Linked DNA regions of Homo sapiens. The protein of the gene in region 2 purifies or fractionates together with the protein of the main gene of each other region. This does not show direct contact. Each region holds a gene or a part of one and is shown on either strand. Other genes may lie near its edges. The genes, in order: LIN9, SAP130, CUL4B, CHD5, SMARCA1, BPTF and BRMS1L.

The links.
Region 1: the proteins of SAP130 (region 2) and LIN9 purify together in Homo sapiens (affinity purification with mass spectrometry, with the first as the bait; one large-scale study listed by BioGRID). This does not show direct contact.
Region 3: the proteins of SAP130 (region 2) and CUL4B purify together in Homo sapiens (affinity purification with western blotting; 2 studies listed by BioGRID, with this or other methods). This does not show direct contact.
Region 4: the proteins of SAP130 (region 2) and CHD5 purify together in Homo sapiens (affinity purification with mass spectrometry, with the first as the bait; one large-scale study listed by BioGRID). This does not show direct contact.
Region 5: the proteins of SAP130 (region 2) and SMARCA1 purify together in Homo sapiens (affinity purification with mass spectrometry, with the first as the bait; one large-scale study listed by BioGRID). This does not show direct contact.
Region 6: the proteins of SAP130 (region 2) and BPTF purify together in Homo sapiens (affinity purification with mass spectrometry, with the first as the bait; one large-scale study listed by BioGRID). This does not show direct contact.
Region 7: the proteins of SAP130 (region 2) and BRMS1L purify together in Homo sapiens (affinity purification with mass spectrometry, with the first as the bait; one large-scale study listed by BioGRID). This does not show direct contact.

What each region holds. Positions count from the first base shown.
Region 1 is NC_000001.11:226,267,665-226,271,164, reverse strand, and holds part of LIN9 (protein lin-9 homolog), read left to right. Parts: intron 1-3,074; coding exon 3,075-3,208; intron 3,209-3,500. UniProt on the Homo sapiens protein: Acts as a tumor suppressor. Inhibits DNA synthesis. Its ability to inhibit oncogenic transformation is mediated through its association with RB1. Plays a role in the expression of genes required for the G1/S transition.
Region 2 is NC_000002.12:128,021,560-128,025,059, forward strand, and holds part of SAP130 (histone deacetylase complex subunit SAP130), read right to left. Parts: intron 1-3,500. UniProt on the Homo sapiens protein: Acts as a transcriptional repressor. May function in the assembly and/or enzymatic activity of the mSin3A corepressor complex or in mediating interactions between the complex and other regulatory complexes.
Region 3 is NC_000023.11:120,526,661-120,529,962, reverse strand, and holds part of CUL4B (cullin-4B), read left to right. Parts: intron 1-3,106; coding exon 3,107-3,202; 3' UTR 3,203-3,302.
Region 4 is NC_000001.11:6,142,322-6,145,821, reverse strand, and holds part of CHD5 (chromodomain-helicase-DNA-binding protein 5), read left to right. Parts: intron 1-1,666; coding exon 1,667-1,798; intron 1,799-1,890; coding exon 1,891-1,999; intron 2,000-3,216; coding exon 3,217-3,408; intron 3,409-3,493; coding exon 3,494-3,500. UniProt on the Homo sapiens protein: ATP-dependent chromatin-remodeling factor that binds DNA through histones and regulates gene transcription. May specifically recognize and bind trimethylated 'Lys-27' (H3K27me3) and non-methylated 'Lys-4' of histone H3.
Region 5 is NC_000023.11:129,467,991-129,471,490, reverse strand, and holds part of SMARCA1 (SWI/SNF-related matrix-associated actin-dependent regulator of chromatin subfamily A member 1), read left to right. Parts: intron 1-164; coding exon 165-287; intron 288-2,585; coding exon 2,586-2,718; intron 2,719-3,500.
Region 6 is NC_000017.11:67,905,503-67,909,002, reverse strand, and holds part of BPTF (nucleosome-remodeling factor subunit BPTF), read right to left. Parts: intron 1-3,500. UniProt on the Homo sapiens protein: Regulatory subunit of the ATP-dependent NURF-1 and NURF-5 ISWI chromatin remodeling complexes, which form ordered nucleosome arrays on chromatin and facilitate access to DNA during DNA-templated processes such as DNA replication, transcription, and repair.
Region 7 is NC_000014.9:35,832,838-35,836,337, reverse strand, and holds part of BRMS1L (breast cancer metastasis-suppressor 1-like protein), read right to left. Parts: intron 3,361-3,500; coding exon 3,233-3,360; intron 1,495-3,232; coding exon 1,415-1,494; intron 1-1,414. UniProt on the Homo sapiens protein: Involved in the histone deacetylase (HDAC1)-dependent transcriptional repression activity. When overexpressed in lung cancer cell line that lacks p53/TP53 expression, inhibits cell growth.

The DNA.
Region 1 (3,500 bases), on a different chromosome or scaffold from region 2:
ACATGATACTTTAGCTACAGTATATAGAAAGTTGTTTGAGACGTCATACTTAAGCCACAGTTGTTTACCCCTGGAGAAATGAGAGTGTTAAAAAAGATATTAAAATCATTGATTTGTTAAGAAATTATAAGAATCTGAACTATCCTAAAAGTAATCTTTGTAAAATGAACGATAATTCCAGGTTATCTGGGATTTTCTGTAGGTTATCTAAAGGAGTAAATGGAAAAGAAATAAAAAAGATTTTATTTATCAAATAAATTTTTCAAAAAACAGAAATGAAGAGAATAGGAAAAAAGTACATACATACACAAACCTTTTTTTTTTTTTTTTTTTTTTTTTTGAGACAGAGTCTTGCTCTGTCTTCCAGGCTGGAGTGCAGTGGTACTATCCTGGCTCACTGCAGTCTCTACCTCTCTACCTCTTGGGCTCAAGCAATCCTCCCACCTCAGCCTCCAGGGACTACAGGCACATGCCACCATGCCTGGCTAATTTTTTTGTATGTTTTTGTAGAGATGGGGTTTCACCATGTTGCACAGACTGGTCTTGAACTCCTGAGCTCCAGCGATCCACCCTCTTGGGCCTCCCAAAGTGAGCCACCACGCCCAGCCTACTTTAATTCTTTGAACATATTTATAACAGCTGCTTTTTTAAGTCTTTGCTAAATATCTCTCTCAATTTCTTACTGTACTTTTCTTAAGAGCCATGCTTTCCTACTTCTTTACATGTCTAGTAATTTTTGGTGGAAAACTTGATATTTCAGATAATATATTGTAGCAACTATGTATTCTAATTTTTTGGAGAGTTGTTGGATTTGCTTTAATAACTTGGCTATGCAAATACTGATGTCTCTGCTTCATTTTTTATTCTTATATTTATTATTATTATTAAACTTGATTTCCAAAGAGTTACCCCTGTGTCTGCATATAATTTAGTGGTCAGGGCTGGGTGCGGTGGCTCACGCCTGTAATCCCAACACTTTGGGAGTCTGAGGCGGGCGGATCACCTGATGTCAGGAGTTTGTGACCAGCCTGGCCAGCATGTGACACCCTGTCTCTACTAAAAATACAAAAAAAAATTAGCCGGGTGTGGTGGCGGGCACTTGTAATCCCAGCTACTCAGGAGGCTGAGGCAGGAGAATCACTTGAACCCGGGAGGTGGAGGTTGCAGTGAGCGAGATCGTGCCACTGCATTCCATCCTGGGCAACGGAGCGAGACTCCCATCTCAAAATAATAATAATAATTTAGTGGTCACCTAATGATTTGAACAGAGGTTATGCTCAAACATCTTGATCGGGAAAAGCCTCACATTGATTTATATGTGAGTTGGGGAATGTAAATACAAAGTTGCTGCTAGTTTTCAAGTCATCCTTAGCTTTTACTTTTTGCCAGACTATTGGATCTTCCCCCTCCATTTGCATAGTAACCCAGTTAGCCAGGGATGGTAGAGAGCTTATTTCCGCCCTTTTATGGCTCTCTAGTTTCCATGATCTCCCTGTTAAATTTCTGGCTGTCTTTCATGACCAGTCAAAATTCTGGCTGGTTTTCGTGACCAACCCTGAACTAATAAAACCATTCTCATCGACCACGTTGGTGGTAGTAGTGGGTGTGTGAATAACCTCGTGCAAAGAGGCCACTGAGTCCCCCTGCCCTAACCTGAAGCTCTAGCACTTCTTCAACAATAAACGTTTCTTGTTTTCTACATTTGATCCATTTCCAGTACCCTGGAATGGTTGTTTTTCACAATCTCATTCAGGTTTGTACTTGTTTTTTGTGGAGAGGAATTACCAGCCTCTTCATGCCACCATAACTAGTAGTCCTTTTCTATGCTTATATTTGTTTACTCAGCTTCATTATTTACATCTTCTGTATCCATGTTTACTTTTCCCTTAAAGGATCTGTCAGAAACTGAGAGAGATTTTAGTCCTCTACAGTTGTGTTTTTATCAATTGATCCTTTTATTTTAAACAGTCTTGCATTGTGTATTTCTGTGTTCTATTAAAATGTTGTGTATTATACTTTTTGGTTAGTATAAAATGTATTACTTTGCCCAGTTTACAGCCATCAATGCTGTTGTTCTTAAATTTTTTACTCATGCTGGATGTTTGTTTGGATTTCTCTGATGTTATTTTAGGCTGGACTTAAATAATAGTGACACAGTTCATCTGTGTCATCAGTTCCAAGACTACTAGTTTTGGTGATTCACTAGAAAGACTCAGAATACTCAGCACATGTACTCATGGGTAAGATTTGTTACAGTGAAGGACACAAAACAAAATTGGCAAAAGAATAAGGTGCTTGGGGCAAAGTCCAGAGGAAACCACGTGCAAGTTTTCAAAAGTCCTCTCCCAATAGAGTCATGCAAGACTTTTAATTCTCCCAGAAACAAGTTGTCACAATGCTTATAAGTGTTGTCTACCAGGGAAGCTCATTAGAGACTCAGTGACCAGAGTTCTACTGGGGGCTGAGTATGTAGGCATCTTTTGCCTAGTACATACTAAAATTCCAGTCTTCCAGAGGGAAAGCAGGTGTCCAGCATTAACCACATCGTTTGCACAATCTAGACACAGTAAAACCACCATTATTAATTAGGGAACAGTGGGAACACTTCCGAAATCCAAGTTCCCAGATACCAGACAAAGGCCAACCTTGCAAGGAGGTTTTCCTAAGTATAGCAGCATCAGGCCTGCAGTATTAACTTCTTTAATTATTTTCTACACAACATCTTTGTCTTTTTTTTTAAATTGAACTACTCCTGGTGCTTCACTCATGAGTATAATGACCAAAGTTCTTTTGTTGTTTTTTTTGCAGTTAAATGATTTAAAATATTTTTCTCTTAATTTGGGAGTAATATAATTTTATTCAAATATGAAATTAGGGATCATCATTTATAGTTTTTGTTTTTGTTTCAAAAATTCTTTGTTGTTTCTCTAAGCCAAAAATAAAGTGTGTGCTTGTTTTGAAACTCTAATAGACAAAATACTGTACTATGATTTAAATTACATGCTTGGAACAGTTTTATATTTGACTATTCTTTGTATCTCCCACACATCATAATGCCTTTGTTCTTTTCTCAGCACGATTACGTGGTGTTCATGATGGTTTGTTCACTGGACAAATAGATGCTGTGGATACTCTTAATGCTACTTATAGAGTAACTTTTGATAGGACAGGGCTTGGAACCCATACCATCCCTGACTATGAAGTTCTCGTAAGTAGTATTTCATAATACATTTGTGTTTTATGCCTGTTAAATGTGTTATATAGAGTTTTTTTAGAAATCGTATTTTATGATAGAATCAAGACTTTATCTCACAGAGGAAGAGATCCTTAGGGGACCCCAGCCCTATCTGCTAGACCCCTGGTTCGGATCTATACTTAAGTCTTCCATTTGCCAGGAACTAGCATTTCTCTGTTGGACCTTAACGACACAGCACTTTAGTATAACCAAACTGATGAGTCCTGACTAAATAACCTTGGAGAAGAAGCTACATAACATTTTC
Region 2 (3,500 bases):
CTATAAAACCTCTTTATTGGGGAATAGATTACATAGAATACCACCACTGGTTTACAAGAAAAGTTCAATAATTTTTTTACAAATATCCTCAGCAACACCAAGGAGCAGAATGGTTGGGTCAAATGGTAAGTATATGTTTAACTTTGCCGAAGTCATTTCCAAAGTGATTGTAGCATTGCCTGTTCCCATTAGCAGTATACAAGCTGCTCCTCTTCCTTACTCATTGCTTGATATACAGCCATTCTAGTGGGTTGTAGTGTGTGTCTCACTGTAGTTTTAATTAGCATTTCCATGATGACTAGTAATGTTGAACATCTTTTTATGTGATCCCAGCCCATTCATATATATCTTCTTTAGTGAAGTGCATGTTTATCTTTTGTCCATTTTAATCAATTAGCTTTACTGAGGTACAATTTACATATAAAATTCACTAATTCTTTGTGTAACATTAGATAAGTGTTCGCAAAAGTATACAGCGGTATAACACAATCATGATACAGATCATTTCCTGTTACTCCAGTGAGTTCATTCACACCCCTTTGCAGTCAATTCCCTCCCCACAACCTCTATTCTCCAGAAACCACTGATCTGCTTTCTGTCACTATGGCATAGTCTTTTCTGGAATTTCACATAACACAATCATACCATCTGTAGTCCTATGTATCTGGATTCTCTCCTTAGTGTAATGTTACTGAGGGTTATCCATAATGTTGTGTATACTGGTAGTCTGGTCCTTTTTATTGCCAAGTAGCATTCCACTGCACGGATGGACACACAACAATTTGCTTATCCTGTCACCATCTGATAGACATTTGGTGAGAACCCTGTTTTGGCTATTATGAATACAGTTTCTACGAACATGTGAATATAAGTCCTTGTATAAACATATATTTTCATTTACCTTTGATAAATACCTATGGAATGAGATTGCTCAGTGGTGTGGTAAGTGTATATTTAATTTTATAAGATATTGCCAAATTGTTTCTTGAAGTGGCTAGCCATTTTGCATTCCCAACAATAAAGTATGAGTTCTATTTGCGCTACAACCATTCCAACACTTGGTATTGTCAGTCTTTGTAATTTCAGTCTTTCTACTGGATGTGCAGTAGTTTCTCACAGTGGTTTTAATGTGCACTGCCCTGAGGATTAATAATGGTGAGCATCTTCTCATGTGCTTCTTTGGCACTTATCTAGCTCTTCTGTACTCAAATATTTTCCCGTCTTAAAAAAAATCAGGTTGTTTGTCTTTTTACTACTGAGTTATAAGTTCTTGTTTTTTTTTTTCCTGGAGACAAGATCTCACTCCGTCACCCAGGCTGGGGTGCATTGGTAAGATCTCAGGTCACTGCAACCTCCGCTTCCCAGGCTCAAGCGATCCTCCCACCTCAGCCTCTCAAGTAGCTGGGACTATAGGCATGAGCCATCACACCTGGCTAATTTTTTTTTTTTTTTGAGACGGAATCTTGCTTTGTTGCCCAGGCTGAAGTGCAGTGGCGCTATCTTGGCTCACTGCAAGCTCTGCCTCCCAAAGTTCAAGTGACTGTCCTGCCTCAGCCTCCCGATTAGCCGGGATTACCGGCACCCACCACCACGCCCAGCTAATTTTTGTATTTTTAGTAGAGACAGGTTTCACCATGTTGGCCAAGCTGGTCTCGAACTCCTGGCCTCAGGTGATCTGCCCACCTCAGCCTTCCAAAATGCTAGGATTACAGGCATGAGCCACTGTACAATTAGCCTGGCCTCGGCTAATTTTTGTATTTGCTGTAGAAACGGGGATTTGCCATGTTGCCCAGGCTTATCTCAAACTCCTGAGCTCAAAGCGATCCACCTGCCTTGGCCTCCCATGGTGCTGGGATAACAGGCATGAGCCTACTGCACACAGCCTTTATTCCCCCATAATGATGTTATGATCTTCCAGCACTATTTTACTGAAAAGACCATCAGGCGCAGTGGCTCATGCCTGTAATCTCAGCACTTTGGGAGGCTGAGGCGGGCAGATCAAGAGGTCAGGAGATCGAGACTATCCTGGCTAACACAGTGAAACACCGTCTCTACTAAAAAATACAAAAAATTAGCCGGGCACGGTGGTGGGCGCCTGTAGTCCCAGCTACTCAGGAGGCTGAGGCAGAATGGTGTGAACCTGGGAGGCAGAGCTTGCAGTGAGCCGAGATCATGCTACTGCACTCCAGCCTGGGAGACAGAGTGAGACTCCGTCTCAGAAAAAAAGAAGACTATCATTTCCCTATTGAATTACTTAGGAACTTTTATCAAAAATCAATTGGCTATATATATCTGGTTCTATTTCTAGATTCTCTACCTGAGTTGTTATGGAAGATAGAGTCTTCTGTTATTCTAGAGAATAATAATATTCTCTAGAATATTCTAGAGAAAATAACATCTAAGTTGAAACTTGAAAAAAGAAGGAATTAGCCAAATAAGTAAGTATATGGAAAGAAACAAGGAAGACTATGGCAAAAGGAAAAGAATGTGCAAAGTCCCAAAGTCGTGAAATTGGGAATTTTTTAATCATTTATTTAGAAATATGAGTAGATACCATCGAGCAGGAGTCATAAGTAGCTTAAAGTCACTTCAAGTCTAAAGAGAACTAAAATAAATTTATAACAAAAACTAAGTTGGCGGCCACCCAAGTGGCTCACACCTGTAATCCCAGAATTTTGGGAGGCCTAGGCGGGAGGATTCCTTGAGGCCAGGAGTTTGAGACAAGCCTGGTCAACATAGCAAGACTCCATCTCCATTGGAAAAAAAAAAAATTAGGTTGGCAGGAGGAAGGCTAAATAGTAAGAAATGAGGCTGGAACATTAGACAAGGGCCATAGCTCATAAGAAAACGCAGAGCAATTAAAGATGCTTCCAGCTCAGCACAGTGACTCACACCTGTGATCCTAACACTTTGGGAGGCTGAGAACGGAGGATTACTTGAGTCCAGGAGTTTGAGACCAGCTTCGGCAACATTGTGAGATCCCCTCTTTACAAAAAAATTTAAAATTAGCTGAACATGTGGCTGGGTGTGGTGGCTCATGCCTGTAATCCCAGCACTTTGGGAGGCCAAGGAGGGTGGATCACTTGAAGTCTGGAGTCCGGAGTCCGAGATCAGCCTGGCCAACATGGTGAAACCCTGTCTCTACTAAAAATGCGAAAAAAAAAAAAAAAATTACCCAGGCATGGTAGCGCATGCCTGTAATCCCAGCTACTCAGAGGCTGAGGCACAAGAATCACTTAAACCCAGGAGGCAGAGACTGCAGTGAGCTGAGATCGCACCACTGCACTCCAGCCTGGGCCACAGAGTGACACTCTGTCTCAAAAAAATTAAAAAAATAAAAAATAAAATAAAATTAGCTGGGGAGCCCAAAAGATCGAGGCTGCAGTGAGCTGTGATTATGCCACTGTACTGCCGCTTGAGTGACAGAGTGAGACCCTATTGCGCAAAAAAAAAAAAAAAAAAGCCTCAGCTACTGGTTTGAGCAATGAGTAGACAGTGGT
Region 3 (3,302 bases), on a different chromosome or scaffold from region 2:
ATGATTTCCAAAAAAAAAAACTTTGTTGGCATATGTGGGCAGCAGTGACAAAAGGGAAAAATAACAGAAAAGCCTGGATACCTGAAAGTTTAACTGCTAAATGAGTGTTTGAAATTTTCAAGTTTATTCACTATATTTCTTTTGAACTTCTTGGTTGGTTATTTACTTCTTTTCCTCTTGAAATACCATGGTATTTATTGAAATACCATGGTATTTGACAGATTTAGTTATTGTGGATTGAGTTAAATCTCCTGTTTAGTTAGCTTATATAAGAGATCATCTGTTAAAAACCATACAGATAACTAGTCATGATTAAGCATCTTTTTGAAAAGTGTAGTGATAGTTCTGGTAAACTGAAATTGGTCATTAAATGGAAACGTTCCATTGTGAATGACCAATAATAAAGTCACTTAATGTGATGTTGTACTGGCCTTTTTTCCAAGTTTTAGGAGGTAGATAGCCAAACCCTTGGATGATAAACATTGATAGAGTTTGAATAGACTGCTAGCTATTAGGGTTCTTATGAGCTTTGGACTTTCATAAATCACTTCACCATGCTGATCTTGTTTCCTCTTTTGTAAAACTGAGATAATAATAGTACTTACCTTGTAGGATTATTGTGAGGTTTAAGTGAGATCATGAATGTAAAAATCTTAGCACTGGACCTGGTACATAATAAGCACTCGGTAGCTCTTAGTTCTAATAAGGTAAGCATTTTCTTTTCTCCAAACCTAATATCGCACTCCTCATTACCACCCTCTCACCCTCATGCTCTGCTTAATAGTCATTTCACCTCAAGCCAGAGAGATCACTGATGCTGGGGAAATTAGGGGATCGCTGTAGTTAATATTGTGCTGATATTCTAGGTCTTTCACCATAATTAAGAGAAGTCATCTGATTTCCCAACCTTGGGATTACTGGATAAAATTTTCACTGCTGTATCAGACTACTTCCCCTCTTTTCCCCTCTTGAACAAGTGGTCATTTTACTTATCCTGAAAAACTTTCTATTAGCAAACAAGATTATATTATATTTACAGACTAGATACATAAGATATATAGTGGAATTTTGTCATCCAGGAGCTTAGAATGCAATCATGAAGATAAAGCTACAAGCTTTCTTGATTACTTTTAAATCACAGGATGCAGAAATCCAAGTCACTTAGATGCACTAAACCAGAAATATGAAGATCTAAATTATGAGGTACTTCATTTATCAAGCCATTTCATGTAGTTTTTTTTTGAGATGGAGTCTCGCTCTGTCATCCAGGCTGGAGTGCAGTGGCATGATCTTGGCTCACTGCAGCGTCTGCCTCCCGGGTTCAAGCAATTCTTTTGCCTCAGCCTCTCGAGTAGCTGGGACCACAGGTGCGCACAATCACGCCTGGCTAATTTTTGTGTTTTTAGTAGAGACGGGGTTTTACCATATTGGTCAGGCTGGTCTCGAACTCCTGACCTCATGATCTGCCCACAGCCTCCCAAAGTGCTGGGATTACAGGCATGAGCCACTGCACCTGTCCAGTATTCTTTTAAATAGTGATTTTTTTTTTTTTTGAGATGGAGTCTTCTTGCTCTGTCACCCAGGTTGGAGTGCAGTGGCGCGATCACGTTTCACTACAACCTCCACCTCCCGGGTTCAAGCAATTCTCCTGCCTCAGTCTCCCTGGTAGCTGAGACTACAGGCGCCCACCACCACACCTGGCTAATTCTTGTATTTTTAGTACAGATGGGGTTTTGCCATGTTAGCCAGTCTGGTCTCAAACTTCTGACCTCAGGTGATCCACCCATCTTAGCCTCCCAAAGTGCTGGGATTACAGGCATGAGCCACCACACCCGGTCTAAATAGTGATTTCATCAGTACGTTTTAAATCTTAATTTATAAAAATGAAGCCAACTAACTCTTGCCCAAAGTAAAGGTGTGCTTCATGAACTATCTTGACAAAACTAGTATTCTGTGTCCTTAAACTACCTTACAGTGCTCATGTGAAGTTACAATAAATGTAGTCTTTTGTATTTAACCACGCGAAGGGTAGCTGCTTCTGGCATGACCTCTTTAAAATAGAAAAGTAATAGAAAGTATTCCGTAACAATATGACAAGGATGTGACAGTTTAATGTATGTATAGTATATAGTACAGGTTGAACACCTTTAATGAGAATCCAAAATCTGAAATGCTCTAAAATTGGAAACTTTGAATGCCAACATGATGCCACAGGTGGAAAATTCCACACTTTACCTCATTTGACAGGTTGCAGTCAAAACTTTGTTTCATGCACAAAAGGTATAAAATTATCTTCAGGCTATGTAAGGTATGTATGAAACATAGATGAATTTTGTGTTTAGACTTGGGTCCCATCTCCATGGTATCTCACTATGTATATGCAAATATACCAAAATGAAAAAGTCAGGACCAGGCATGGTAGCTCACACCTGTGAGTACTGGGATTCCAGTACTTTGGGAGGCTGAGGCTGGGGGGATTACTCCAGAACAAGAGTTTAAGGTCAGCCTGGGCGACATAGCAAGACCCTGTCTATTAAAAAAATTAAAAGCTCCAAAAAAAAATCAAAAATCAAAAACACTTTTGGCGTTAAAGAATCTTCAACATACCTGGGCACGGTGGCTCATCCCTGTAATCCCAGCACTTTGGGAGGCTGAGGCAGGTGGATCACCTGAGGTCAGGAGTTCAAGACCAGCCTGGCCAATATGGTGACACCCCATCTCTACCAAAAATACAAAAATTAGCCAGGCGTGGTGGCTTGTGTCTAGTCCCAGCTACTCGGGAAGCTGAGGCAGAAGAATCACTTGAACCCAGGAGGTGGAGGTTGCAGTGAGCCAAAGTGGTGCCACTGCAGTCCAGCCTGGGTGACAGAGCGAGACTCCGTCTCAAAAAAAAAAAAAAAGAATCTTCAACGTGTATAAAACATTTTTTAACCTGGTTTATTTTCATGATACTTTTCTCTAAAAAAGAGATTTAAATAAATAAAAATTTTAAAAAAGGAGATTAAATTCATGAGCCGAAACTGTTGTCTTTTTAATGGGGTATTAACTAAATGGGCTTGAGCCAATGATAATGAACTTTACATTGAAAATTTGCCTTCTCTTACAGCCTGCTGATCTTAAGAAGAGAATAGAATCTTTAATTGACCGGGACTACATGGAAAGAGATAAAGAAAATCCAAACCAGTACAACTATATTGCATAGAATGTTGGCCTTGCAGCATTTGGTGTCATATGCAGTAGCCAGTGGATAAACTAACCTGTTGATTCAATATTATTTGACTCCTTTTTTACTACCGATGACC
Region 4 (3,500 bases), on a different chromosome or scaffold from region 2:
CTGGGAGGGAGGCGTCTTACTTTCACCTCTGTTTTACTGATGTGAGAATAGGCACAGCAAGGTTAAGTCGCCAGAATCACACAGCCACGGGGTGGAGCTGGGATTTGAACCCCATGCTTTCTGACTGCAGGACCTGCTTTCTTAGCTACTGTTGCACCCCCCAGTGCCCCAGCAGCAGCTCTTCCTGGAGCAGTCTGGCAGTTCCCTGGGATGCCTTAGCAATCAGAGGCTGCAGGAGGCTGGCACAAAGAGCCAGAGGCAGGAGGCCCGTGGGCTTTGGTTTTGATTTGGTGGGTGGTGGGAATGCCTGCTGATTCTTGAGTTGAGGTGCTTGAGAACTGGTGGTGGCTGACAGATGGGCCTTGGGGTGGGGCCCAGAGTACCTGCTGCCTGGTGGCAGCTTGGAGCTTGTGCTCCCCATCCCAGCTACCCTGTGGCCTCTGTTTTTGAGGGGCTTAGGATCGGTGGCCTCTGACACTCAGTGCTTCTGGCTTCAGGCAGCTGTTGGGTAGAGCAGAGGTTAAAAGCCTGAGCCAGATGTTCAGATTTCAATCCCGGTTCCCATCTGCTGAGCTTTGAGGCCCTTTTAGGGAACAGGCTGCTGCACGGGTGACAGGAGCTTGCCAGAGGCTGGCTGTGGGTGGTCTTCAGTACGAGGGTCGCGGAATTTGAAAAACTGCCCCCCTTCAACTATGGGACACCCCCCTTTTCCTCCCCAGGCCTCCCTGAGAATGACCTTCAAGGGTCAGTTCCTGTGGGAACCTGAGCCCGGCAATGAATTGGCCCATGGTTTTCTACCTTTACTAAATTACATGCTAAAAATATACATGGTAGTTTTTCTCTCTGCCCCAAAGTGGGGCAGGTGAATCTCCCCCAGATTTGTTCCCCCAATCTGCAAAACAATCAATTATGTATGGGAAAACAAACAAACATCGGTTGCCGTGGTAACGGGATCGGTTTTTCTCTTAATGTTCCCAGGCCCGCAGCAGCCGCTGCTCACCGGGTCTGTGTGCCTCCTCGGCACTGCTGTGTGGGGTAGTCAAGCCCCAGCCCGGCCCTCCAGCACTCCTCTGGCCTGGTTGCCTTAGCCTGGGTGGGTGGGAGGCCCTAAAGACCCTCCCAGTGGCCAGAATCAAGCTGTGTGCTGCTGGGCTTGGTCACTGGGTCTTTGTGTCCCCAGAAGAGACCACCTCACACGCAGGAATTGCATCCTTATCTACTTTGCAGAGATGACTCCTCACCCTACGTGGGCACTGCACAAGTCCTTTGCGTATTTTAAGTTAGAAAACTGAGTCCATTGGCAGGAAGGAGAACTTTCCAACTTAGAAATCCAGAACTCCTGTGAAAATCCAGACCCTGTGACAAATGGGATTCATCCCTGCCACAGAGGCTGCAAAGGATGTGGGAGGCTGGCTCATTGCTCCTCTGTTAGCTGGCCTCCGTGTCCCTCTCCAGCTCTGCCACATCCCCCTCTCATTCGCTGTGTGGCCCCAGGCAAGCCGCTGCACCTCCCTGGAGCTTCTGCCCTCGTCTCCTCCTCCTGGCTGGGCCCAGCATCCGAGGGGACCCTGGGTGTGAATGGCTCTGCATCCTGGGAGGTGCCCTTCATCAAACCTGTGCTGTGGCCACTGCTCTGAGCGACCCACATCTGTTCACCGTGTTGCAGCTTTGACAAGAAGGGGGATGTGCACTACCTGATCAAGTGGAAAGACCTGCCCTACGACCAGTGCACCTGGGAGATCGATGACATCGACATCCCCTACTACGACAACCTCAAGCAGGCCTACTGGGGCCACAGGTGGGTCGCAGGGATCCGGCTGCTAGGCACAGGCTGCCGGGACCTGCTCCTGGGCTGAGCCTTGCTCACCTGCCTCCAATGCCGTTTCCCAGGGAGCTGATGCTGGGAGAAGACACCAGGCTGCCCAAGAGGCTGCTCAAGAAGGGCAAGAAGCTGAGGGACGACAAGCAGGAGAAGCCGCCGGACACGCCCATTGTGGACGTGAGTGGGGAGGGTGGGGCAGCAGTGGGTGGGGTTGCCAGGGCCTGCCCACCTCAGACTTGAATGTGCAGGGGGTGTGTGTTCTCAAAAGGATGTTTCCTTGGGCCCTCATGGCTTATGCAGACAGTGTCATGCCCATGTAGGCTAGGACAGCTGGAAGGCCCCTCATAACACTGCAGCTGACATGCTACTTACACACCACTCTCACCTGGGAGGAGACCCAGGATGACTCACTCAGCAGAGCTCCCTGGGTGTCCACTAGCGCCTGGCCCTGGGTTGGCCCTGAGGAGACGAGGGCCAGTGAGCCCTGGGTAGCTGTTTCAGAAGACACACTGTCTTCTAGGGGCCCTTGGTGGGTATCCACAGAACACGGAGGGCCTGGCCTGGGACTATCAGGCGCCTGTCAGATGCTGGGGAAAGGCAGATGGGCCTGGTCCATTGGGAGGACTGCATGGGGCCAGTGACCTGGAGCAGGATCAAGAGACAAATGGGCCGGGCATGGTGGCTCATGCCTGTAATCCCAGCACTGTGGGAGGCCGGGGTGGGAGGACCGCTTGAACCCAGAAGTTTGAGGCAACGTAGTGAGATCCCACCTCTACAAAAAATTAGCCAGGCACGGTGGTGTGCCTGTGGTCCCAGCTACTAGGGAGGCTGAGGTAGGAGAATCCCTTGAGCCCAGGAAATTGAGGCTGCAGTGAGCCATGATTGTGCCACTGCACTCCAGCCTGGGCAACAAAGACTCTGTCTCAAAAAAAAAAAAAGTAAATGTCTGGATCCAGTGGAGGAGCCTGTTACTGGGGGCGTTGCGAATGCCCCAGATGGATGTTCGTTTTGTTGTTCATCCAAAAAATGGTGAGTAAGTGACCACATGTCCCAGGCACTGTGTGGTACTCAAGAGGAGGCAGTGAACAGGACCAAGGTGGTGATGACAACCTGGGCTCAGAGTCAGAGAATTCAACAGTCGGGAAATTTCCCTGATAGGAGAAGTACAGGGCTGCCATGGGAGGACACTGTGGGAGCACTTCAGCCAGGCTGGGAGTCAGGGAGGGCTTCCTAGAGGAAGAGGTGTTCCATCCAAGAACTGGAGAAGAGTTAGGAAGACAGACAGGAGTGGGAAGAGTGTTCCAGGCAGAAGGAATTGCATGTGCAAAGGCCTGTAGTGTGGACTCTGGTGGCCCAGGATCTGGGGCGTGTCTGAACCGCTGCCTCCCCTGCAGCCCACGGTCAAGTTCGACAAGCAGCCATGGTACATCGACTCCACAGGCGGCACACTGCACCCGTACCAGCTGGAGGGCCTCAACTGGCTGCGCTTCTCTTGGGCCCAGGGCACTGACACCATCCTGGCCGATGAGATGGGTCTGGGCAAGACGGTGCAGACCATCGTGTTCCTTTACTCCCTCTACAAGGAGGTGGGCAGGCGGGGCAGGCGGCCAGGAGGGGTGGCTGGTCCTGGCCAAGGGCAGGTGGTCTCACGGCATCGGCCTCTCTCTCCAGGGCCACT
Region 5 (3,500 bases), on a different chromosome or scaffold from region 2:
ATAGGATCATGGTAGCAGAAATGTGGAGAGGACCGTGTGTCATTCTGGCTATGATTTTATATTGTTTACTCTTGAAATAACTCTAAAGATTGATATGTGTATATACAGCCTTAGTAATTAATTTTTCTCATCAGTTTACTCTTAGTTTATCTCTTGATTTATAGGTTCCAAGGAATCCTGATATCCCAAATCCAGCTCTGGCTCAAAGAGAAGAGCAAAAAAAGATTGATGGAGCTGAACCTCTTACACCAGAAGAGACTGAAGAAAAGGAAAAACTTCTCACACAAGTAAAATATTTTCAATGGCTGTAATACTTACAGTCAATCAATAGAAAAAAAGAAAATATAGATCACACTTTTTATTGTATGGGCCTAGTATCCTAGTGTGACACACCAACAAAACTCAGGGCTATTTTGTAAACATGTTTAGACCAAATCTCCTTATTTTTAAAAATTGATCTTATAGAATATGCCCTTTTGGAAATAGTGGATAGTATGTATATGCAAAATATAAGTGTCAAGTATTAGCAATTTGACATACATTTTGCCAATTATAATAAGGTCAGTGAATCCACATTTGAATTCTGATAGACAGTAGTTATTAACATATTCTTTTTTGTTTTTTGAGACAGTCTCGCTCTGTCACCCAGGCCGGAGTGCAGTGGTGCGATCTGAGCTCACTGTATCCTCCACCTCCCAGGTTCAAGTGATTCTCCTGCCCAAGCCTCCCGAGTAGCTGGGATTACAGGCACCCACCACCGTGCCTGGCTAATTTTTGTGTTTTTAGTAGAGATGGGGTTTTGCCATGTTGGCCAGGCTGGTCTCAAACTCCTGACCTCAAGTGATCCACCCACCTCGGCCTCCCAAAGTGCAACTGATACTACAGGTGTGAGTCACCGTGCCAAGCCTGTTATTAACATATTCTTGAAAATTTAAATTTCTTTTGTTTATAGATGTGAATTGTCTCCTGAAGTTATATTCTACTAATTTTTTATTAATGGAATAATTTCATAATTTTCAAAATTCTTTTTATCTTTTTTTATAATTTTCATACAATGATGAGAGATTTCTGAAGCTTTTATTATTATTATTATTATTTAAGGTGATCATTGTATAACAATTATTAAATTAGGAAGGTTTCCATTTGAACAAAATATTAATGCTTTTAAGTCATTATTGCTATCATGAGTTTTACGAGTGTTCTACTTCTAAAATAAACTATAGAAGATAAAAATTTCAGCATAGAAGGCTTGCAAAATAAACAAAATGTGTACCGTAGGACATTACTTTAGTATAGAGGGTTGCCAGCAAGATTTATTTATTCAACAAATTTTGAACAATGTGCGATGCATAGTAGTAGGTAATTCTCCACGTTAATTATTGAAAGATAGTTTTTATATTTGTATATTATTTATTATATAGGTTTTTTTTGCTATAACGTAATTTTATTGTATGGATTTTCACAAATTACATTCATAAGTTTTTGAGCCAAATGCCTGGAAGTAATAAAGTTTAGTTTGAAAATATAATGGCAGATGGCTGAATATTAGAACTTACCACAGAATAAAATAAAACATTTAAATATTCATGTTCTATTTTCAAAATGTATTTCCTGAATGTAAAAGTAAAGTTATGGCTTTAGAATGCTACATGACTTGGAGTATATTGTGAATGTACGGTATAACATGAATATACAGTCTCAACTGAGATAATATTTTAGTTTGTAATTAGAAATATAATCAGTTTTCTGCTTCTCCTAGTATATGAATTCATTTTTGTCCTTCTCTGCTGCCTTAAATAATTAATCTTTTTCAAAAAACCATGGCAGTACGTAGGAACAAAATGTGGGGTCATCTGAAATCTTTATCAACTAAAAGCCAGGGATAGAGTTTTGCAGTGTCTGGAGTATCACATTTATGTGAGTTGGGGCTCGAGGAGTGGAAGACAAATTCTTGGTCTTGTGACTTCACAGACATGCTAATAATGCCAAGGGAATTTAAAACACTGGCTAAAGTGTTTTATGTTTTAGTAAAGAAATTGAGTGGCTCCAATAACGTTCTGCTTGTAGAAGTTCTATTTATGAACATAATTTAGAACAGAAATTATTTATTCACACTAGTTCAGAATGATGTAAAGAGCTACAATTTTTTTTTGCATTATCTTTTGGTTATTCCTCAGTGTTCTTTTGATTTAGTGCATCCACATTTCTCTCTTTTAATTTATGTAGGAACAGATCTGTGAAAAAAATCATTGAAGTACTAGAATATCACGACTTCAGCATTTATATTAGCATTTTTATTTTCATGCATTTGTATTTTAATGTAGGCATCTATAAAATATGAAATTAAAAACTACAGATCTTCGAACTATGTATCAACATTCTCTTTGTAATAGAAAAGCAGTTATTTCTATAACAACTCTCACTCAACTTTTGATTCCAACATAAAATATGTGCAATTTTATAAGGAGAAACATTTTAAGTCTTTTAAAGTGTTTTTTAATGTATCATTGTATAGAAGTAAATAGGGCAATAAATGGATTTATTAATTTAACCTCTATTGATAATGCTTAACTTTTTGTTCACAGGGTTTCACAAACTGGACTAAACGAGATTTTAACCAGTTTATTAAAGCTAATGAGAAATATGGAAGAGATGACATTGATAACATAGCTCGAGAGGTAGAGGGCAAATCCCCTGAGGAGGTCATGGAGTATTCAGGTTTGTATATAATTTGAAACATGGTGTTGTATTTTAACGTTATTCATTTATTTAGCATCAATTTAATTGTACCTTTGTTCAGAGATGTTTTAAACTTTTATGAATAAGACATAGATGAGAGTATAAACTATAATTGTATTTCTATGAAAAGGTTATAAGAAAGGTTATAAGATTTATCCTAACAAACTGACTGCTATTGTCTCTATCACCTAGCTAAAAGAGGCAAATAAAGCTCTGATAAAACAAGGGTGGCTCTTGGATAAGCATTGACAAAATTAGTTTCCCACCTTCCCACCTCTGGAATTTGGTCTTCTGGTTCAGTTCTGAGATTCACATTCAGTGGATTGAATTCGTGCCTTTCTTTCTAGGTCGTCCTTAAAGTAGAGAGTTCCTGTCAGGCCCATTTAGATGCTCAAACACCCTCAGAGTTCCACCCTATTCCAGAGAGTTCCTGTGGGTCCCATTAACTTGGGGCTAGCGGGCGTAGAGCTGAAAAGATTGCTTTAATCAATCTGTTAACTGGTCCTCAAATCCTCTCCCTCTCTTACTCACCTGTGTTGTTGAGCTCGACCAGAATCAGTTTAGCTGCTGAAGCATATGGATTTTTTTTACACTTACTGGTTTATTATAAAGGGTATTGTAAAGGATACAGATGAAGCGTGTAGGGCAAAGTATGGGCCAAGAGGGCGCAGCGCTTTGGTGCCCTCCCTGGGCGAAACCTCTTCGTGTTTAGCTATCCAGAAATCTTATTAAAAATAGGTAAATATGTCTAGCAAGTTTTC
Region 6 (3,500 bases), on a different chromosome or scaffold from region 2:
ATTATCTGGGTGTGGTGGTGCACACCTGTGATCTCAGCTACTCAGGAGGCTGAGGCAGGAGAATTGCTTGAACCCAGGAGGCGGAGGTCGCAGTGAGCTGAGGTCACGCCACTGCACTCCAGCCTGGGCGACAGAGTGAGACTCCGTGTCAACAAAAAAAAAAAAAAAAAAAAAAATTGTCAGTGACAACTGAAACAAGAGTGATAAAATTTGGATGGGTGTAGTGGCTTATGCCTGTAATCCCAGCACTTTGGGATGCCAAGGTGGGCGGATCACTTGAGGACAAGGAGTTCAAGACCAGCCTAGCCAACATGGTGAAACCCCGCCTCTATTAAAAATACAAAAATTAGCCAGGCATGGTGGCGTGCAACTGTGATCCCTACTCAGGAGGCTGAGGCAGGAGAATCGCTGGAACCTGGGAGTTGGAGGCTGCAGTGAACTGAGATCGTACCACTGCACTCCAGCCTGGGTGACAGAGTGAGACTCCATCTCAAAAAAAAAAAAAAAAAAAGTGGTCAGTGACAACTGAAACAAATGTGATAAAATTTGGGTGAGTGTGGTGGCTCATGCCTGTAATCCCAGCACTTTGGGAGGCTGAGGCAGGCAGATCACTTGAGGCCAGGAGTTCAACACCAGCCCAACAAGGTGAAACCCCATCTCTACTAAAAATACAAAAATTAGCCAGTCATGGTGGTACGAGCCTGTAGTCCCAGCTACTTGGGAGACTGAAGCAGGAGAATTGCTTCAACCTGGGAGGCAGAGTTTGCAGCGAGCTGAGATGGTGCCACTGCACTCCAGCCTGGCTGACAGAGCAAGACTCTGTCACACACATAAAAAAATAAAATGAAAGAAAACTCGTGTATGAAGGATTATCACAATCTATTTGATCATTCCAGAAAGCCCATATCAGTGGTTTCTAACATACTTTGTGTCACAGAACCCTATTAGAAATGGATAAATGCTATGATCCTCTACCAAGGAAAAAAGTATGTATATAAACTTTTGTAATCTATTTCAATGGTTCTTGGACTCCTTGAAGTTTATATAACAGAATAAAAGACTGAAAAAAAGGATCAAAGGCAATCTGTGGCCTTGTTTACTGCTTACAGTAAAAAGGTATCTCTAAGACAACCAGGGCAAGTGGAATATGGACTGAGAATCAGATTATTAATTTGTTAATTACGGTTAATTTGTTGAGTGTGATAATGACATGATGGTTATGGAAAAATGTCTACGTAGAGATACATATTGAACTTCTGGTGAAACATGATTTCTGGGATTTATTTTAAAACACTGCAGGATTAAAAAAAGTGGTCAGTGACAACTAAACAAAGAGTGATAAAATTTGGCTGGGAGCAGTGACTCACACCTGTAATCCCAGCACTTTGGGAGGCCGAGGCAGGCAGATCACTTGAAGTCAGGAGTTCGAGATCAGCCTGGCCAACATGGCAAAACCCCGTCTCTATTAAAAATACAAAAATTAGCTCGGCGTGGTGGCGGGTACTTGTAATCCCAGCTATTTGGGAGGCTGAGGCAAGAGAATTGATTGAACCCGGGAGGTGGAGGTTGCAGTGAGCTGAGACCATGCCACTGCACTCTAGCCTGGGTGACAGAGCAAAACTCCATCTCAAAAAAAAAAAAAAAGTGATAAACTTTGATAATTGTTGAAGCTGAATGAGTTCATTATTCTCTTTGTATTTGTGTAGTTTTAAATTTCCCATAATAATTACAAAAAAAAAAAAAAAATCAAGCCTCCCAAAACAGAACTACTGTCTAGATGAATATTCTTGGGACTTAAAGGTTTTTTTTTTTTTTTTGGAGACAGTGTCTTGCTCTGTCACCCAGGCTGGAGCACAGTGGGTTCATCTCAGCTCACTGCAGCCTTGAACTCCTGGGCTCAAACGATCCTCCCTCATCAGCCTCCTGAGTAACTGGGAATACAGGTGTGTACCAATATGTCTGGCTAATTTTTGCATTTTTTGTAGAGATGGGGATTTGCCATGTTGCCCAGGCTGTTTCTTGAACTCCTGGGCTCAACTGATCCTCCCCTGCCTTGGCATCCCATCACAGGTGTGAGCCATGGCACCTGGACTTAAAGGCATTTTCCTATTCTTTACCTTCTTCACTTGAACCTAAATATCCCAAGGACCTAGCAAGGTATATCCATTTTTTATTTAAATGAATGATTTCTTCCAGAAAGGTCTGGCTGAAGGGAAGAGAGTGCAAAGAAATCATAATTCTGTCGCGAGCAAGATACTGGTGTGAGAAAATAGATATAAAAAATATATCTATTTTTAATTTAAATGAATGATTTCTTCCAGAAAGGTCTGGCTGAAGAAAGAGAAGAGAGTGCAAAGAAACCGTAATCCTGTCAAGAGCAGGATAGTGGTGAGGTAAGAGAAGAATCACAGAAAAGGGCTTGGGACCTGCCAGCGTTCTATCACTCTGTGCATATGTGGTCTTCACTATGTCACCTGGCACCCTCGTGAAATAATCGGCTCATTGAACTTGAGTTTAAAAACACATGATCTTTTAAAAGAGCAGTTCATCTCTATAGAGTTCGGTGATTCTAAATACTAAAGCTCATTAGCCAGTTGTAAAAACTCAATTAATAGCTTATTTATAGGCCAGGCGCAGTGGTCACACCTGTAATCCCAGCACTTTGGGAGGCCGAGGCGGGCAGATCACAAAGTCAAGAGATTGAGACCACCCTGGCCAACATAGTGAAACCCTGTCTCTATAAAAAATACAAAAATTAGCTGGGCATGGTGGTGTGCACTTTTAGTCCCAGCTACTCGGGAGGCTGAGGCAGGAGAACTGCTTGAACCCAGGAGGCGGAGGTTGCAGTGAGGCCAGATACGCCACTGCACTCCAGCCTGGTGACAGAGCAAGACTCCATTTCAAAAAAACAAAAACAACCCCTCCCCCCAAAAAAAACCTCATTATTTTTTTAAATTATACTTTAGTTCTAGGGTACGTGCGCACAACGTGCAGGTTTGTGACATATGTATACATGTGCCATGTTGGTGTGCTGCACCCATTAACTCTACATTTACATTAGGTATATCTCCTAATGCTATCCCCCAACCTCCCCCAACCCCACGACAGGCCCCGGTGTGTGATGTTCCCCATCCTGTGTCCAAATGTTCTCACTGAAAAACCTCATTTATGTGACAGTGTTTTGGAAGCCTCTATCACTTTCTTTCTGGTTTTCTCTTACTTGCAACAATGCTAAGGTTACTAGATACATGACTCCTCAGTGAATTAGTACTGAATTAAGATTTTTTTTTTTAAGAGATTGAGTCTGGTTCTGTCATCCAGGCTCGAGTGCAACAGCACAATTATAGCTTACTGCAGCCTCAAACTCCTGGCCTCAAGCAATCCTCCTGCCTCAGACCCCCAAGTAGCTGGGACCACAGCCATGTGGCACTACACCTGGCTAATTTTTAAAACGTTTTTGTAGAGATGGGGTCTTGCTATGTTGCCCAGGCTGGCCTTGA
Region 7 (3,500 bases), on a different chromosome or scaffold from region 2:
ACATCCCATAAATAAAAAGATAATAAATTCAACTACATTAAAATGTAAAACTTCTTTGCAGCAAGTCATCAGAAAGAGTGAAAACATCGTACCACCTGGGCAAAAAGATTTGCAAAGCATACAACCAGCAAAGCATTTATAGCCAGAATATATAAAGAACTTATATAGTCAATGAGGGAAAGACTAAAAGCCAACACAAAGGCAAGAAATACAAATAGGCACTTCTTAGGAAAAAATATCCAAGCAGCTAGTAAACGCCAAAAAGATAATCAATCTCAGTTGTAATTATGAAAATGAAACAATGAGCTCTATCATTTTTATACCTAACTACTCTTAGTTTACGGCACATTAAAGTGACAGAAGAATCGTTATAGAACTTGTCCTCTTATTTCTACCTGTATATCTATAATCTTGTCTAGATTTGATAAAAAGTTATCTGCAAAACGGGCACTATGGGGTTTTTTTGTTTGTTGTTGTTGTAGTTGCTATTTCTGAGACAGGGTGACACTCTGTTACCCAGGCTGCAGAACAGTGGCACAATCACAGCTCACTGCAGCCTCAACCTCCGAAGGTCAAGCAATCCCCTCACCTCAGCCTCCTGAGTAGCTAGGACTACAGCCACCTGCCACCATGCCCAGCTAATTTTTCTATTTTTTGTAGAGGTGGGGGGTCTCACTATGTTGCCCAGACTGGTCTTGACTTCCTGAGCTCAAGAAATCCTCTCGCCTCAGCCTCCTAAACTCTTGGGATTACAGGTGTGAGCCACCATGCCTGGGCACTATGTTTTTTAAATGCTATAAATATTTTAACCCATTTATGCCTAGTGTTCCATTACTGGAATGTTAAGCTTGTGGGAGTTATTTATATCCTACTGCTCAAGGTCATCACCAAGATCTGATTTTTCACACACACAAAAAAATTGCAACCTTCAGCATAAATGGGTTAAATGCAAAATAAACAGAATATACAGAAAAATATACCTATTTTTTTTCCCATAAATAGAGAATTCTGCCCAAAGATGTGGAAATAGGTCTAGACAGACAGAAACTAATTCTATAGCCCAACATCCTAACTGCACCATTGAGTGTATATTTCGCAAATCTAATCCACATTATACTAATTATACTAATATTTTCAGTAATGCCAGGTGACATAATCGTTGCAAAGTCTTTTTAAAGTAACAGCTGCAAAACTTCTAAAATTATCTCAGTTTTTTTCTATGGTCCTTTCTTTGTGTCCTATCTCCAATACAGCTTCCAATGCAACTCTATTCTTTTTTTTTTTTAATCACACACAAATGATGAGCTAAAGTACTATTTAATATTGTTTTACTTAGTTTACTTTTTTAACTACTACACTCAGAAAAGGCTTGAAGAGATGAAATTAGCTTAAAAGTTATGCAAAATGACAGTACCTCACAATGCTGGCGAGAAGCTTGAATTTCACATTCATATTTGTTCTTTACAGATTCTAAGCAGAGCTCTCTATAGATTCCTGCAACCAAACACAATTACTCTGATTATGTTAGCAATGAGAAGTTCCATTATCACTTCCCTACAGGAATTCTGTCCTCACTGTATTTAATAAGATGGATCAAGAAAAAATTGAAAAGTGAGTCTAACTTTGTCTTTAAAGACTAAAAATAAAAGGCTCACTTAAAATATATATCCAAAAAGATTAGAAATTATAAGAGCTAGAAAGAAACTGTACTGCTAGTTTTTGTTCTTAATCTATTCTTCTAAAGATTACTCCTAAATGTTTGATACAGAATAATCAAAATGAAAATAAAACTCTTTTCCTGTGAAAAACAATCTCTCAAGTTTCTCAAAATAGAAATGGAGATAATAAACTCTGGTGTCATCAATCACATATACTCAGAGTAACAGCTAGATACTATACCCCACCAAAACCACTTTTTTTTTAACTATCATTTTCAATCCAAAGAATCCACGAGGAGTAAATGTATATAAACTGATATAACAAAATCAATTATGTCTGGAGTGCTCCTGACAGGACTTTATCTAGAGGATGGATACCCAAGATAGTTTAACTTAGACCCTAACAGGACAATAGTATAAAATAGGTAACATGGCCATGCAAATATGTCACTACAAAAACGGCACGCAAAGAGCTCTGGATATGTATTCTAAGCTTTATGCCATAGTTGGCCCTAGAAATGTAATTATCTCTCTTTGTATAGTAAAGGCAAGAGACAGATATCTGGAACTACGTCATCAGCAACACATTCACACACACTACTCTGCAAAATCAAAATATAAAAGAGGCCAGAGTAGAAAAGTAAATAATCGACTCAAGTAATATTTCCTGATCATCCATGTAATCTAAAAGAACAAAGAAAATTAGGGATATTTTTACTTCTAAGGGTATGTTGTCAATATGTAAAGATAGCAGTGAAGAGTATCATATCATCTACATAATATTAAGCACTCAAAAATAAAATTTGGTTAAAGGAGGGTTTAGTAAAAAGAACTTATTATCAACAATGCCTTAGGTATTATCTAACAGGTACATAAGGGTCAATTAGTGCCACATAAGAGAAAAACAACCAGCATCTCCACTAATTAAAGTTTAGTTTTTGACTATGAAAAATCATATATATATCCCTTGATTATGAGTGCCAGGACATGATACTGAGGCTGGATCCTATTTACAAACATAAGACTGAAATGTAACCATACAAATATAGTGCATCTTTGTTTATTTGTAGCCACAAATGAGTAACCAAACTTATCAAAGTAAAAAGGAAAAATTAAATCATCTAGTTCAAGGCAAGTTTCCTGTTCTATAATATCCTGATCAAACATTTTTAAAATTTTTTATAAATTAAAAAAAATCCTATCACTTTTACGTATTAAAAAAATGCCTAGAACACTTAAACTTTATCTAATAGGGAATTAAAATGTGATAGTAACAGTCTCTCTTAATGAAAGTATCATGGTTTCCAGTTGTTTCACCAAATGTGGAACTATCTTCTCAACAACACTGTAAACAACTTGAGGGCTTTTTTTTTTTTTAATCCCCTACAGCAGCAGAGCAAAGCAAGAGGTATTCAATAAATACAGTAACTGTGGGCTAACTAAAAGTAAAATATTCTGGTCGATGTAAATATGCTTGTAATCCCATCAACATAAAACACTTACTTGATAAACACCTTTTAAAGCTACTGAAGAGTTTACATTCTATATATGGAAAAGATTCTTCACTTTCCTACCTGCTACCTTTGTACGAATTTGCATATTTTCCTGTAAAGTTGCCAGCGGTTCCAAGTATTCTGGTGCTTTTCCAGCTATGACTTCTTGTAGTTTTGCATCCACCTGACTTAATCGTTCTTTATAAAGTCTTAACAAAGCAAAAATTAATATGTTAATTTAAAAATCTCAACAAAGGCTAACAATTTGCCATTTCTATACATTATTTGTTCCCAATATCATTTATATTCTAATAATCTATCAAATATATTTTGCCTTGATCTCAAGCAG